Linked DNA regions of Homo sapiens: region 1 is linked to region 2. A link means that fine-mapping ties the variant in region 2 to the expression of a gene that starts in the linked region. Tissue or cell type: whole blood. Region 2 holds a variant in brackets; the other region holds the start of a gene. All regions are shown on one strand. Distances are from middle to middle.

Region 1 (8,676 bases), 78 kb before region 2:
GGTACAAAAGTACTATAATAAAGCTGGCTGTGGTAGCACATGCCTATAGTCCCAGCTACTCAAGAGACTGAGGTAGGAGGATTGCTTGAGCCCAGGAGTTCAAGGCCAACCTGGACAAAACAGCAAGATCACATCTCTTTGGGGGAAAAAAAAAAAAAGGTACCATAATAGTAATACTTTTAGTTTCAGAGTTGTTTAAAAATCTTAATTTTATGTTTAGTAAAGTAACTTATTCAAGTTTTTTTAAATATTTACTCTTATGATTGTAAAACTTTCTTTTATATTTATCAATTTGCTATAATATGAAATGATGTATCCACCATTTAACTAAATCAAGAGATTTATTAAATGCAGTTTATCATAAATCAAAAATAACCATTAATGAAATGGAAGAATCTATTTACTTTATCAGCATTGAGATTCTATTTACATAATGAAGAGCTATGGATAATAAACAGCCCAAACACTATCTGCAAAAAAACCAATATTCCAATGATTTTAATATACATATAACTATCAGTTTCTAGGCTTGGATTTAAAGAATATGTGAATGGAAAGAAGTAAATTAACATACTAATTTATTACAGCTTAGAAACCTAAATGAAATGCCACAGGCCACAAAACAACTGCTTCGTATTCAAAGGCACACATTCAATTTGGTAGATCAGCTGGACGCACTGCATTATACTGCAGGAGATAAGGGTTAAGTGACCTGGGGATATTGTTCTCCAGATGTCTAAAAGGTCCATTTTTTTATTGGAATTATCTCTACTTTAAAAAAAAAAAAAAAAGGAATTATATCTACTTTTGATAAATACCTAGCTTACCACACAATTAATACCTTCGCCCATATAAGATTCTACTTGAAGCTTCGTTTTTGAAATTTTAGGATTGTAGCTATTATAAAAACAAAATTTAAGAACACACAACATGTACAATGGGTCAAGAATACATGCCTTAGATTCTGATGAACAGGACAAGAAGGTTAAGAAAATACTATAACATACTCTAAGTTTGGGGGTACATTTTAGAGATTTTTAAGTGAGAAATCCAATAAATCTTTAAGCATTTAGCTTTCCATTATTGCAGCGCATGAAAAGACTTTTTTAAACTAATTTGTAATACACAATATATTCACTCCACAAATAACTATGTACATATATATGCCCACATCAATTTCCTACTCTTTTAATTAAAAATTTATGTTTCTTTTGGTCATAAAAATCTGGTTTTGGGTGTTTTAAAAGTTCAAACAGCTATTAAGCTATACTTTGCTTTGGCACTAGCTCCCCCTCCAGACCAATGTACTAATATAACAGCATTTTTAAAAATAATAAGTTAACAGTTTTTTCCAATCCACTGGCAAATTTTAAGATTCACCACTTTTAAGGACACTCCAATTGCGTAAAAATAACTGGTAAGAATTTGCAACAAAACAATGCAGGATGTAATCAGAATTAGTTTTGTTTTGTTTTTTTCGATTCCATACATCTTAAACAGAACTGATTTGTAGGAAAACAACTTCAGGTGACTTTTTAAATTCAAAAATATCCTCAAAATATAACCTATATAAGGCCGTACTTTATGGAAATTATTTTGAATCACTATCCTATTACACAAGACACTCTTCAAGTTAACTCACAACTTGACCAAAGATACATTTTTGCATCTGTTTCTGCAATCTATGCAAGTTTCATTCCAGCTGTTCAGCTCTTGAATTCAAATAGAATTCTCAATTTATAAGGCAGCAAAAAGAAAATCCATGTCTTGGAACTACCTTTGTACGTGTCTTATAGCCTATTCATCTCTAACTCCCTGCATTTTTTACACACTAAACCTGTGAAATCACAATTACAAATGCTTGAATTCCCACCTTTTCAATACTACTGTAGTATTTACAAATCAAGTAATTAAGATTTTCTATACACATACCAGATTTCACAAGGACAGCAAGGTACAGGGCCTTATTATTTGGCATAGGGTTTTAAGATGTTTTTACAGTTATTTTAAAGAGCAGAGACTACAACTCCATTATTTCTCATATATCTGATATACTGTAGTGCTTAAATAATAATTTCTCTCCTAAAATACTTTCTATATGATGCACCTATTTAAAGAATTAGTCATAAAACATAGAATGTAAATTTAATCAAGAAAATAAACATGCACCTAACCGCCGGAATAACAAGAAAAAAAAAATCTATAATGAAACCTGCCTACAGTTTTCATAGAGGCAAGCCAGTTAAGTCAGTTACTTGAGATGCGTTTAACTCTAAACTGACACAAAACTTGTGTTGAATTTGTTCCGCAAAACCTTGAAATTTGGGGTTATGTACTACAGAATTTGGCTTTTCTGGGTCCACCTTCCTGAGTGGGTTTAAATAAACTGTGAATAATTAAAACATAGGAAGGAAAAAAACACCACCTGTCCGTGCCTTTAACCAAGGCCTCAATCTATATATTATATGGCAAAATGCTAAAATAAAAGCTCATCCGGGACAAACCCTAAGCATGACACTGCCACTTAAGAAATACACTGCGTCTCTGAAGATTGCAATCCCCACTGTGAAGAAAGAACAGGTGCTGCACCCGACAACCCACTCAATCCTGCAGGACAAACCTCCTAGAACTGATAAATATGGACTCATTTAACCTTCCCAAATAAGTTGATACTCAAAAGCCGCCAGCTCGTCATTTGCACATCAAAAGGGAGTACAGCTGCACTCAAGCCTTTAACTGCCCTGCATCAGTCCCTCGCGGATCTTTGTGAGGGTCCACTCCCTGCTTTCTAGCCCGAGCAGCACTCAGAAAGAGCCCATAACGCACGGGCATCTTCCTCCCCACAAACCGCGACTCCAGGGACCGAGCTGCTGACGAAGGGAAGGTAGGTGTGGAGGGGAAACGACGGACACCTCCCACCCCCGCCCCCAACCCTTCTCCTTCCCTAGGCTTTGGCCCCTGCCCTAGGCAAGGATGCGCGACGCCGAGGGCAGCAGCGGCGCAGCTCCGCGTCCCGGCTGGAGAGGCGGGCGCCCCTCACCCTCTGCCCGCGCCCCCGGGGCTGCGCCAAGGCATCCGCCAGAGCGTCCCGGGGGCTCCCTCCCCACTTTTCCGAGAGCCGCTGGTTAACCGGCAGCAGTTGCAGCAACAGGCCCGGGTGAACGAGCAGGGACAGCCGCGGAGCCTCCTCAGATCCCGCGCGCAGCCCAGCCCAAGACCCCGAGGCGCGCGGGGCCCGGCTCCCAAAACGCCCCCTTACCCCAGGCGGGAGCAGAGGCGGTCTCCGCCGCTCCCCGTCGCAGCTGCCAAAGCCACAGCCCTCAGCCGCAGCTGCCCCACGATGGGGGAGTGGGAAGGGTGGCTGAGTGGAGGATGCTACTCCCGACCGAACGGAGAGGAAGAAACGGAAACAGGAACCGCCGCCGCCGCTTAACGGAGCCTTCGGCGCCACTGACTGAGGCAGAGCGCGAGGCGGCGCGAGCCGGGCAGTCGCTGACAGCGCGAGACCGAGAGCGAGCTGGGTCCAGGGCGCGCGACCCTGAGCAGTGCCGGCCCCATTCCGCGGGGAGACGAAGGGACGGGTCGGCTGGGGCCAGGCGGCGGGGGTGGGATGGGGAGGGGGCCTGGAGAGGAGGGAACCGGCTGCTCGGGTCGGCCGGAGATAACGCGCGCACGCGCCGGAGCGGCTCTGACAACGAGCGCAGGCGGGGAAGCCTCGGCCAGCGCCGGCGTGCGCGCGCGAATGGGGGAGCGCGCCCCTCGGCGTTCCTGGCTTCTGGGAGAGGGCGCGCATGCGCCGGCCGCTGCCACCTACGGCGACCCTGGCATGTGCCAGGGATTCTCCCCGCCCCCTTCCTCGCTGCGCCGGTGGAGAGCGTAGCAGCAGCATCCACCGCCTAGCAGAGCCGCGGGCCACAGCGGGACGGCACAGTTCCAGCAGGGCAGCGGCTGCGCACGCCGGCTCCGGCTCGCACACAGGCGTAGGCCGCCCTCTACCGCCTGAAGGCCGGAGGCTGAGCGGGGCGCGAGCGGATCCTGGATCCCGGGAGGAGACTCGCCTCCAGAGAATGCTGTGCTCCCTACAGCGCCGGGAATGGACCGGCCCGTGCCAGCTCAGTCGGCGGCCCTAGGGGGCACCCGCACTAGAGGTTTTGAAGCTGGCTCCTTGCTACTTTTAGGGGTGCGCGCTGCTGCTGCTCAGCCCCTGCAGCCCGCATTTGGCCGCTTGACTGCTGCTTCCAGCGCGATCCTACAATGGCATCGCTCCCCCAGGAGACTCAGCGAAGCCCTACTTTATCTTGTAAGAGCTGTTTCCACATTCACTCGAAGAGAAAGACCCCCCCCACGAGGGCCTGAGTTCGATGCCCGGCCTCTCCCGACCCGCGGCTGCGACAGCCCCTCTGAGGCGGAAGTTTATTTAGTACGGGAAAGAGAACAGCACGGGGAGAGGGGAGAGGCTTTGCCCTAGGATGCGTCCTACCCGCTCGGACTCGGAAAATTCCCGGCGCCCGCGATGCAGAGCAGTGGACCGAAGGGCTGCCCCAGAGCAGCCCAGACCGCCAGCTGAGCGGGAGGACCGGAGCGCGCCGCCCCAGCACACAAAGTAGTCGCGGGACGAGGGGTGCCGCCGAGGCCAATCAGAGCTGCGCGCCGCGTGAGTGGAGTGCGAGCCGGCCAATCAGAGGGCCGGAAGATGAGCTTCCCGTTCCAAACTCTTCCCTGTAGCCTTGGGACCCAGATCCCAAGCCTGGGGCGCTTTACGGTGGGAGAGCGAAATGGTGCCCTTAAGACAAGAATCATTTCTCTAGGCTTGGGCATTTTAAAGTACATACCGGGGATACTTATCCCAAAGCAAGTAGCGGCGGCCTTTTAGATGTTAAATATTAAAAGATCACAGAAAGGAGATTTAAGAGGCAGTGGCCTGTCAAGGTTGCAATCTGCCTAATATTCATAAATTCACATATTTATTGAGACCTTCTTATGTACCAGGAACTCTATCACAGATACACAAATAAGGTACTGCTGATTCAAAAGAAAATCCCTTGTCCTCAAGCAGCTCAGGTTGTGAGGGAGGCTTTCCTAGACCTTGAGACTCGTATTTATTGTCAGCTCTTTAAACAAAAAGCACTCTATGAAGTGCTGTACTTTACAGTCGTTTTTATGATTATCTCCCTGTGAGAAAAGAAAATTGAAAGGAAAGTAGAGTGACTTGTCCAAGATCACACAGAAGATGTACTAGCAGAGCCAGAATTATGTTCTAGCTCAGTTTGGGTGTCATCATTCAATAAAATAATTCAATAACAATTTGTAAATGCATGGATGCTCTCTCCCATGAGATTTCTGTACTAAACGTATAAGCAGGACAAAATTCTGGTATAAAAGTGACACACTTTGGTTGTTGGAAATGAACACAAATTTTAGACTTATGTGGGATTAAAGGTAAAAATCTTACCAGTCATACTTTAGATAATTTTTAGAAGTCAGAGGTGGGGTGGATATTTACTTCTTAGTTTAAACACAGCATTTTAAAAATATTTTAACAAGCAAGCGTAACTTTTTTTTTTTAAGATAGAAGAAGCAGGAAGGATCACTTAAGCCCAAGAGTTCCAGGCTGCAGTGCCACATCGTGCCTGTCAGTAGCCACTTCAGCCTGGGCAACATAGCAAGACCCTCATGTCTAAAATTAAAAATAAAATTTAAAAAAAAGAACTACTTCTAGTTGGTTAATAATCATGATAGTTTACACTGTATAATACTTTGAGATACCCAAGTACAAAGCTTTACATTTGCCTAAAAATTCCATTTTTGTCTGGTGTTCCATTTTTACTTCCAAAATCCTAGGAATTAAAGCACTTATTTTCCCTACCTCCTTCCAACTGAAAAAAAAAAAAAAAAAAACCTGTCCTAGGAATGTTTTGCCCAGGATTTGGTGCATTTGTATAGAACAGTATAATATACGTTAAAATAACAAATAACTTTGGTATCTCTTGAATACACTCAGAAACTAATTCTTCAGTGGTTTTGAAGTCTGCTTTGTTGAATCAATGTGCTTCTCCACCTGTGATGGAACATTATTATCAAAACCCTTTCCAAGGCAGGCTCAGGATTTAGCTGCCATCCCAAAACTGGAGGTCTCTGTCAAACAACTGATATTTGAGAACAAGTCTTTACACATTAAGTTCCAAGCCAATCATGAATTTCCAGGAAATTCACTTATGAAAGGGAATTTTATACCCTGCCTCTTCTCAGTGTGGATAACAGTCCCAGCTTTTAAAAAATACATTTATTTTACTCTCTCCAGACAAGAAAATTCCTAGAACTCAGTCGTTCTCTTGCCAGGTTAAATTCTGAGAGAGAAGGAATCCCCCAAAAGGTTCTAAACATCACTGGCCATCAGAAAGTATCTGTGTCAAAAGCATTTTTCCACAAGCTGCAGGTCCCACCCTGTTGCTGCGCTCTCTCATTCTCTTCTCCCAACTGCTTGCCTCTGCTGCTCATCACTGCCAGTTTGTAATAGTTGCTTAAGTAAGTACAGGTACTCCACCTCTTACTCCACCCCTCCCTCACCAAACTAGGTTTTGGACCCATCTTTGCTTATCCCAAAAGTTAAAGACAAGTTCTGTTCAACAAAAGATTAGACAGAACAATCGTTATGATCTGTTATACAACAAGTAACAGGGCCTTGTCAGTGCATTGTTTTCTTGTATATAGCCTCGGTCAAATTCTTAACCATCAGCTAGAGCTATGGGGACTCGGGTGTCCCGGGGCAAGAAGGAGTCAACCCTTAGACTATGGAAAAGATCAAAATGAAAGTTAAAGTGAGTACATGAGTGGCCATTTTATTGAGAGATTAGCTAGATCAAAGTTAATGAACGTGAATGCTATCACATTTCCTAAGTTGTGAACATTCATGTAGAAACTGGTTTGAAATTTACTACCATTTTATTATGACTGTAATAAAAATAATAGCCAAAGTGTAATAGTGCTGAGCACCAGGCCTCATGCAAAACTCTTTACCTCCACCATTTAATTCTCAAATCAAACCTTTGAGGTGGATCCTGTTATTACGGTGGGGAGATCTGTGGAGTTCCAGCAAGGGGTTGAGGCACTCAGAAGGCTTAGCATAAGCTACTTACCAAATAGTTTAGAAATTTTTCTATCTCTACCAACGTGTACCAACTGACTGTCAGCCATGGAAGCATTCTGAATAATTGTTAATTGTTCTCGTTGTTTTATAATTGTTGCTCTAGCTACATTTCACTTACAGGATCCGATTTTCCAGGAAGTCATCCAAAGGGCAGCATTGTTATTGCCAAGAGCAAGAAGGGGTGACCTTGAGATAATCATTTTACCCATCTGGGCCTCAGTTTTCTCATTTGTAAAATAAAAGGGTTGGACTAGGTAAGTTTTAGTTGTTCGTCAGTTCTAAAACTATAAATCTAGCCAACTTGACACACCATTGACAATAACTACAAAAATGAAATATAGGGAAAAAAAGTCTATATTTTCATTTTTATTTTTTAGAGACAAGGTCGCAGAATGTTGCCAAGGCTCGTCTTGAACTCCTGGCCTCAAGCTGTACTCTTGCCTCAGCCTCCTGAGTAGCTAAGAATCTATATTTTCAAATTCAATGTGTTTTAAGTCACTTTTGAGCCAGCTCCTTAAACAAACTCTATACCTACTCATTAAAAAGCCAGAGCAAATCTTTCCCATTACAAGAGTAAATGAAGTGATTGATTTAAAGACTGATGAAACTAGCCAGACTATCCCTCCCTATGACTTGCCTCCATGGCTGAAATTTCTGTCTTCTCCACTGGGATAAAGCAGCATATAGTTCACACTATTGATTTCTAATTGAACATTCACTCCCGTCCTTCCTTATTAATAGGGCTGTTTATTTTTGTTTTCATCTGCCAATTCTTTAGGTAACCACCCAAAACTCCAACTACAGAAAGGCAACTCAATTAGCCAATAAATGGGTTCCCTAATATGGTAGGAGATTTATCATGCTTACTCTCTCTTTCCAGACATACAAAAAGATTATATTTTTCCACACCCACCCCCAGATACCCTCCTCCCCTTGCAGTTGGGCTGGACCATGTGACTGACTAGCTATAGCCACCAGTCTGTAGTGGGTTGTGGGCAGAAGTGGTATGTGTCAATTCCAGGTAGAACAGTTCATGGCCAGCGTAAGTCCTTACAGTGTTTACTCTTCTCCAGACTCAAGACCAGTATTATCTTGAAAGTATCGGTAAAGCCTCTCTCGGCTTAACTTCCAAAAAAAAGGACAAGGTAGAGCAGCCTGCCTCCCATTTTCATCTGGTTTTAATAAGAAATACACCTTTGTAGTTTAAGCCACTGAGATTTGGGGGCATTTTTCAATGCAGTATGACCTAGCATCTAGGTTATGCTAGACTAGAATATGCTAGAATTAGAATAGTCCTAGACTATTCTAATTGATACACTTGAAAACCATTAGGACCAGGATAAACTGGCCCAATCAGACTGAAGGAAAGGATTTTCAGTCCATATCTGGGGGAAGGAGTTCTCTCTTTCCTGCCAGATATGAGCAAGTCAACCTGTAACCCAGATTGCCATTGGCAGCAATCTTGCAAGAGGAACTAACCTGAAAATGAAGTCAACCTACTGGCGATGGCAGACAGATAGAAAACCCTT
Region 2 (8,676 bases):
TCCCTACCAAATTAAAATGGAAATCCCTAAATCCAAACCCAGTAATATCAGGACCTGTATTCCTTGGGTAGTACCATAAATTGATGTAACCAATTAGGAAAGTAATTTTAAGTCCTAAAAATATTTATGCCCTTTGACCTAATAAATCTCTTTGGAGAATGAATCGAGAGCAGAGCAGCAGAAGCCTAAAGCCATTGCCAAAACTCACAGTTTCATCCTTTCATGCTTTCCCTGAATTAGGCCTTCCCAGACCCTATGCCTGTGCTGTTCAATACAGTAGCCACTGTCCACATGCACCCCTCTTTCCTCCACAAGGTAATAAACTCCATAAGAGGTACCCTGTCAATCTTGTTTCCTGCAGAATACTAGATCTTAGAACAGTGCCTGGCACACAGTAGGCGTCAACAAATACTTAGTGAATGAATTTATGAATGAATGTCAAGCTATTCCACCAATCCTCCCCAAATACGCTTTGAGCTTTCTTGTCTCCAAGAAAGTCTTGCCTCAAAGTGTTTGTTTTTGCCCTCTTCTAACCAGAATCTTTATTGCTTATCTAAAACGATGTACTTTGAGCTTCAAGTAGAAACTGCCCAACTCAAAAGCATTTCATGATAAGATTTTTTTTTTAATCTTACAAAAGAAATTCAGGGCCGGGCACGGTGGCTCACGCCTGTAATCCCAGCACTTTGGGAGGCTGAGGTGGGCAGATCACGAGGTCAGGAGATGGAGACCATCCTGGCTAACATGGTGAAACCCCATCTCTACTAAAAATACAAAAAATTAGCTGGGCATGGGGGCAGGCGCCTGTAGACCCAGCTACTTGGGAGGCTGAGGCAGGAGAATGGCGTGAACCCGGGAGGCAGAGCTTGCAGTGAGCCAAGATCACACCACTGCACTCCAGCCTGGGCGACAGAGCAAGACTCTGTCTCAAAAAAAAAAAAAAAAAATTCAGAAGTTGTGCAGTTCCAGGGTTGGGTAATTCCATAGCTCAGCAATGTTCTCAAGGAACCATGCTTGTCCACCTTTTCTCTCTGCCACTCTGCAGCTGTTGCCTTTACCTTCCTCTTTATGTTTGCAAGATGGCAATAGCAGTTCAAGCTCTATGTCCTTAACAACATCTCAAGGCCAGAGTACCTTGCTTCCTTTTGAAGACTTAGAGATTTTCCCAGACGTCCCTTCTGCAGTTTCCTTTTATGTTCCATTGTCCAGAACTATAGCATATGCCTTATTTATTTTATTTTATTTTATTTTATTTATTTTGAGACAGGGTCTCACTCTGTGGTCCAGGCTAGAGTGCAGTGGCTCAATCATGGCTCACTGCAGTGTCAAACACCTGAGCTCAAGCAATTCTCCCACCTCAGCCTCCTGAGTAGTTGGGACTAAAGGTACGCACCACCGTGCCCTGCTAATTTTATTTTTTATTTTTGTAGAGAGGAGGGCTCACTATATTGTCCAGGCTGGTCTCAAACTCCTGGACTCAAGCAATCCTCTCATCTTGGCTTCTCAAAGTATGGGAATTACAGGTATGAGCCACCATGCCCAGGCCAGTACATTCCCATTCTTAAACCAGCCCATTTCTAAACCAGTTACTGGCAAGAGTAGAAAATTTTCATGATTGGCCTAAAGAATCCAGATTCACCTTCCTTGGGCTGGCTGAGTCCCGCATCCCAGAGCTCCTGGTTGATATAACTGAAAGAAGTGGAACTAGGGTAGGAGGCTGCACTCCAGGAGATAAAATGGTCTCAAAATAAGCCCTTGAGACTTTTTATAAGTCACAAAATCCTACTAGTTTTTCAAAGTGCAGCTCAAATCTTGGGTCTTTCATTAATCTTTCCCTTATTATCTTAACCAGAAGCAGCCCATCCCTGCTATAAATTTAAAACCTTGAGTATCGGCCAAAAACACTGGAATCATTCCTGATTTCTCTCTTTATGTCATAAATCATAACCCTATATCTCATCTATCTTGTCTACTCTACCTTCATTATATATCAGAATCTAATCTCATCTCACCACCCTTAGTCTCTTCTCTCTGGTCCAAGCCACCATCATCTTCATCTCATCCCGGATTATTGCAGCACCCTTCTCACTGGCCTCACACTTCTCCTTGTGCACTCTTGGAGTCCATGCTCAGAGTGATCCTTCCAAGGTGTGAGTCCAATCATGTCACTGCTCTACTCAAAGCCCTCCAATGGCTTCAAAACAAAATCTAAAGTCCTTACCACCACTTGCAGGGTCCTCAGTGATCCACTCTGTCACCTCTCTCATGTCCTCTCCTGCCCACAGTCTCCTGCTCACTACTTTCCAGCTACACTGGCCTGCTTGTTCTTAGAACTCACCAAGCACACTCCTTCCTGAGAGCCTTCGTGCTTGCTGCTCGCCTTGCTTAGAAAATTCTTCACAGACTCAGATGACTCACTCCCTCCTTCTTCAGATTTTGACTCAAATGTCTCCTTACCAGAGAGGTCTTCTCTGATCTCCCATCTAAAAAACCACATTCTCTTAACCATGTCACTCTACCCTCCTTAATCTGCTTCATTTTCCTTCAAAGTACTTCCCAGAAGCTGGTGTATTATACATATTTATTTGCTGACACTCATCTTGGCCTCTCAAAGTATGTCTTGTCTCATTAGAACATAAGATCTAGGGGGTGGGGGAATAGGGGAGGGATAGCATTAGGAGAAATACCTAATGTAGATGACGGGTTGATGGGTGCAGCAAACCACCATGGCATGTATATACCTATGTAACAAAGCTGCATGTTGTGCACATTTATTCCAGAACCTAAAAATATATATATACATATATACACATATATACGTGTGTTCCTTATACATATATATATATAAGGAACATAAGATCCATAAAGCCAGGGGTTTTATCTGTTTTGCTCCCTGTTTTTTGAGACAGCCAAGTGTAAAGGGGTCCCCTGAGAAACTCCGACTGGCCTGCGCACTGGGAGAACAGGGTGGAGCTGCAGAAGTTCACACCCTTTGCAGCAGGAAGGAGCCTGGCCTCTCCTGATCCAGGGTAGTACATGGGATTCAATCAGTGAGGCAGGAAAAACCAGCAAGCAGGACTCTCACTTTGCTGAGAGTCCCTGTTTCCATTTATTTTCCTTTTTGCCCAATAAGTTCCATTCTTCTCACCCTTCAAAGTGTCTGCAAGCCTAATCTCTCATGGCTGTGTGACAAGAATCCGGCTTTTAGTTGAACTAAGGAGAAAGTCCTATAACACTTTAGCCTCAGAGCTTACAACAAAACATAATTAGTGCTCCATATATATTTGTTCAATACTTATGTATTCCCTTAATGTTTGTTATCTGTTGGGCATGGTCTCTAGCTGCTATCTTTACACACATCCTGTCTCTTCAACGGGAACATACGATTCTTAAAGGCCAGAGCTGAGTCTTAAAGCTCAAGGCCTTAACATAAAGAGGCCACTCCAAAGTGTATGTTGTTGACATTTGGAGGGAGGATACATTGGGGCAGTAACAGCTGTTGTTATGTTACCTACCCGCTCTTGGCAGGGCCCTGAGAAGCTGAGGTATGAGACACAACAGCATATTTAGGAGAGAGATGCCGCCTTGCTCCTTGAACAGGAGGAGCAAGGCGGCATCTCTCTGATACTAAAAGGAGAATACGGGAGCACCTTTCTTACCTACATTTCCCCTGGAACTAGTCTTTCCACTTGCAAGTTTGTTTACAATTCCACGTTCTTTGCAACTGAATGGGGCCTCACCCTCATTAATTGGTGGCAAAGGTCACTCCTTAACAGATGCTAAACAGAAGCAGAGCAAAGTTAAGGGTGGCTAAGGTCACACAGAGTCGTTGCTCAAATTTAGGAAGGAAACCCACCTAGTGTGAGGTGGGGCCCCAGGAGGGGCATCTGAGCCCCAAGAGAGCAGCTCTCTTTAGCCCCTGCTCTAGTTTCTTTGCAGTTCTCCTAAAGAAGTTCACCAGCAAGGCCATTTACCAGACACCAGGGAATCAGGCCACTTTCAAATGTTGATAGCATTACGCTTGCCAGAGGAGAAAGGGACAAGTGAGGAGACTGAAGACAGTGCTTTCAAGAAAAAGAAGAAAAAGATATTGAATGTGCACTCGCTAAGCCAAAAAAGCAAATGCCAGGAAGAACCGTGAGCCTTGTTTGAAGCCAAGTCTGCGCAGAAGAGTCCCAGGTGTAGGGAAGGAGGAGCTGAGGTGGTCTGAGGACGCACAGCAAATGCCCTGGGGGGTGGGGCGGGAGGAGAGAACATATTTTAAGCAACCTTAAAAGACTCGTTTTAGCATTCCGCAGGAAATGAAAAGCAGATGTGTTGGTTTGGAACTTGTTTACATATTTGGCCTCTGAGAAGCTTCCAGGACAGTTAGGACTGGAGAGAAGGGGTATTTTAGGCAAATGCTATAGTCTCCACTTGGAGAGAGTGGGGCCCTTCATTGG[C/T]TCACCTGCTTCCTGAGAAGCAAGCATTTAGGCTGAAAGACCATCATTGTCCCTAAGACAGGTCTGGCTAGAATAAACCAGGATTTGATATACAGAACTGGTCTCCTTGTACCTTCTTACAGAAACTAAGGGTTGTTGCACCTCCTCTCTTGCTTTCAAGTCACACCCACTGGGCAGAGAAGTGAAATCAGAGGCCTGGACATTGGGAGGATGATGGGATGGTTCACACCAAAGGTCCTGAGATTTGCAGAAGGCTTGTTAGAATACAGATTACTGGGTCTCACCAGCTCAGCCGAGCTAAGATGAGGCCAGTGGCTACACACTGGAATCATCTGGAGATTAAAATAGACTGATAGCTGAGCCCTGTTCCCACAGATTCTGATATTAATTGGTCTGGGGTGTGACTTAGGCATTTTTTAAAAATTATTTTTAATATATAATAGAGAGGGGGTCTTACCATGTTGCCTAGCTGGTCTCAAACTCCTGGCCTCAAGCAGTCCTCCTGACTCAGCCTCCCAAAGAGCTGGGATTATAGGCGTGAGCAACCATGCCCAGCTGACTTGGGCATTGTTTAAAGCTCTCCAGATAATTATAAGGTATAGCCAAGGTTGAGAACCATTGAACTATTTATCTTTTACCTGCTCTCATCATTCCATCCCTAGATTAACTTCAATTTACCTTCATAACATGTTCACAAGGTGGTTAGGACCACAGGAGACCGTGGGATCTAAATTAGGCATAAACCTGGATTTAGAGAAGGGGCTAAAAGAATATTGCTCTCAGAGACATCAACTATCAAAAAATCTATGTAAATGCAGGCAATTCCCCTTTTTTGTAGTATGTCCAGGAAATGGCGCTCCTTAAAAGATATTTTTTAGTTGCTAAGGGACAGGAAAAGTAGCAATCTTTAACACTTATTGAGCATTTATTATGTGCCAAGTACTCTTCCAAGTGCTTTCATTTTAAATTAATTTAATTTCCACAACAGCTCAATGATGTTGGAGCTGTTATTTTCCCCATTTAGCAAATGAGGAAACTGAGATACTAGGAGATGAACTAATTTGTCCAAAATCACACAATTAGTCAGTGGTAGAGCTGGCTTTCAAATTTTGGTGTGCCTCTGAATTACGGAGACTACGGAGACTCCGCTGAGAAAGAAAAATAGCTCAGATCAGTCTGAGCTATGTGAAGTATACAAAATTTATCAAGCCTGGAGAGACAGGAGTATGGGACTTCAGTCACATCTCTGCGCCCATGTCCAGGGCAACTGTGTAAAGGCATTTTGTTCCTGCTTAACTGCCTTACCCATTATCTTCATGTTGGAATTTGTGATGCAAAGAATAACACATACCCAATCAATAGCTTATGTTATTTTAGTATAAATTCTTGGTAAACAATTTAGGAGCTGCCTCTTCTTTATTCCTTAAAAATCCTCTTGTAGCTATTTCTAATCAGAGTGTGGGTTTAGGGCAACTTGAATCTATGCTCTTGGGTGGCCACCCTCAAGCTTTGAGCTTGAATAAACTTGAAGCCATCTTCACCATGTTAACAAGAATTCTGGACAGAAATATAGTTATGATTAAGCATTAATTAGGCTGCACTGTGGCTCACTTCCTTGTAACAACAGGAAGTGAAAGTTGTGGAGTACTAGATCCTGACCACTTGCATCCTCATTGTTCCTACAGATAGTATTTCTGTCTGAGGTTAGAATCATCAGGCCTCTGATTAAGATAGATAGAATCTCTGACATTAGAATCATAAGGCTTTTGTTTAAGAATTGCTTAAGATGTTTTTCAGATCCCAAATTTGAGCTGATGCCAACAAGTTTGAAGACCCCCAGAGGAGAGCAGAATCAGCATGAGAATATAGTTTCTTCATCTCCCTGTTCTATGACTTCATCCTGCACCCTTGGGCCAAGCAAAGATCTCCACACTTCAGCCCACTCCAAAATCACTAAAAATTCTAGACCCAAATTCCTTGGAGAGACTGATTTGAGGTTTCCTCCCATCACATTCAGCTGCCCTACAATTAAACCTCTTTCTCTCTTGCAACTAGGTGTTTCAGCGTATTGACTTGCTATGCACATTGGGCAATGAAACGATTATGGTTACAAACTCTATATTTAATCATCTCTTCAGAATCTCATTAATTTAGGTTGTGAACCCCAAATATCTGAGACAGGTCTCAATTTAGAAACTTTATTTTTTCAAGGTTAAGGATGCACCCGTGACACAGCCTCAGGAAGTCCCATGACATGTGCCCAAGGTGGTCGGGGCACAGCTTGGTTTCATACATTTTAGGAAGACATAAGACGTCAATCAATATATGTAAGATGTACATTGGTTCAATCAGAAAGGTGGGACAACTTGAAGCAGGGAGGGGGCCTCCAGGTCATAGATAGACAAACATTCTTTTGAGTTTCCAATTACCCTTTCCAAAAGAAGCAATCAGATATGCATTTATCTCAGTGAGCAGAGGGATGACTTTGCGTTCTGTTTGTCCTTTGTCCAAAAGGAATTTCCTTGTAGACAAATTGTGAGGCAGGTATATAGCTTTTTTATCTTAGTAGCTATCTCCTTTAAGGAATAGAATGGGAGGCATGTTTGCCCTAAGCAGCTCCCAGCTTGACTTTTCTCTTTGGGGGGGTCCAAAGATTTATTTTCCTTTCACAAGGTTGACACTGTTCAAAATACTAATGACCAGGCTCTAACCGAGACCAACTGGATCAGGATCTCCTGGAGTGGATCTTTATCAAAATTATTATTATTATTATTATTATTATTATTATTATTATTATTGAGATGGAGGCTCACTCTGTCACCCAGGCTGGAGCGCAGTGGCGTGATCTCAGCTCACTGCAACCCTCCACCTCTTGGGTTCAAGCGATTGTCCTGCCTCAGCCTCCTGAGTAGCTGGGATGACAGGCACGCACCACCATACCCGGCTAATTTTTGTATTTTAGTGGAGACAGGGTTTCACCATGTTGGCCAAGCTGGTCTCAAACTCCTGACCTCAAGTGATCAACCTGCCTTGGCCTCCCAAAGTGCTGGGATTACAGGCGAGAACCTGGCATATCAAAATTATTTTTAACAAATCTCCTAGAGAGTTAGTTGTTGGACAAGATATGAGGCCACTGTTGGGGGTTATTTATTTATTTAGAGACAAGATCCCTCTGTTACCCAGGCTGGATTGTAGTGGCACTGTCATGGCTCACTGCAGCCTCAACTTCCTGGGCTCAAGTGATCCTTCTGCCACAGCCTCCCAAGTAGCTAGGACTACATGTACACACCACCATGCCCAGCTGATTTTTTTGTTTTTTGTAGAGACAGAGTCTCACCATGTTGCCCAGACTGGTCTAGAACTCCTGGCCTCAAGTGATTCTGCCTTGGCCTCCCAAATTTCTGGGATTACAGGCTTGAGCCACTGTGCCCAGCCTCACTGTTGGGGTTTAAAATGAAGACTTTGGAATCAGGTTATCCTAGGTTCATTATTTTGCCACCACTTACAACTGGAATCTTTTAACAAATTCCCCATTCTCCCTTTGAATTTTCATTTCCTCATCTGCGTTGGAATGATTATACTTAGTTCTTGAGATTGTTCTGAAGATTACATGGGTTTAAGGTACTTAGCATAAAAATAGAGGCTGGAACATTGCAACTCCAGAAGGTATTTTGAGACATTAAACAGGTCCTCCCTTCTACCATCAACAAAACACACTTCACCACATTCTACTGCTCTGCAGACCCAGGCATGCCCTGCCCCAGGGAAAAGTGAGGTTATCATAGCTGGAATGCCAAGAAAAAGAAAGTCAGTGGTTAACTTTTGAGATTCAAATGAGATTGCTGAACACAAGACCTAGATTTGAGAGAAAATACTTTTTGAGCATTCAGGAACTCTTTGGCCCTAAATCGTTATTTTGAACCAAATAAGAACGGTCTGAAAGAACTCTCCCCACTCCTCCATGCAAGATTACCAGCCCCTAGATACTTTCGTAGGGTTATCTAGACTGGAGAGATGTGTGGTCTCCAAGGAAGGCCCCTATCATCTTCCCAGGGTGAATTATTTTAGCAGAGAGGGAACTCTGGCTGGCAAGTAGAACACAAGATAAGCCTTGAGGAAACTAAGAATAGAGGAAATTTGTGTCTACTTCCTATCTAGGGAGGGCAGCTGACCCCACACATTTGCTTATGCTACAGTGATATGGGGTCAACAGAGCACAGATGGTTGTTCGGGT

What was found.
Region 1: it holds the start of FUT8-AS1, and the variant in region 2 is fine-mapped to the expression of FUT8-AS1 in whole blood (TOPMed, PIP above 0.99).

Annotation. Positions count from the first base shown.
Region 1 is chr14:65,407,798-65,416,473 of GRCh38, reverse strand. FUT8-AS1 (FUT8 antisense RNA 1) reads left to right here and starts at 3,857. Exons shown (of 1, transcript NR_024334.1): 1 at 3,857-5,882. FUT8 (fucosyltransferase 8) reads right to left here and starts at 3,744. Exons shown (of 11, transcript NM_001371533.1): 1 at 3,260-3,744. RefSeq lists enhancers at 2,439-3,003, 4,246-4,565 and silencers at 2,926-3,115, 3,126-3,245, 3,546-3,705.
Region 2 is chr14:65,330,073-65,338,748 of GRCh38, reverse strand. It overlaps MIR4708 (microRNA 4708), which reads left to right and starts at 3,566; the gene lies at 3,566-3,632. RefSeq lists enhancers at 2,318-2,467, 2,528-2,627, 7,581-8,191. The variant C/T (reference allele first, on the strand shown) is at 4,443.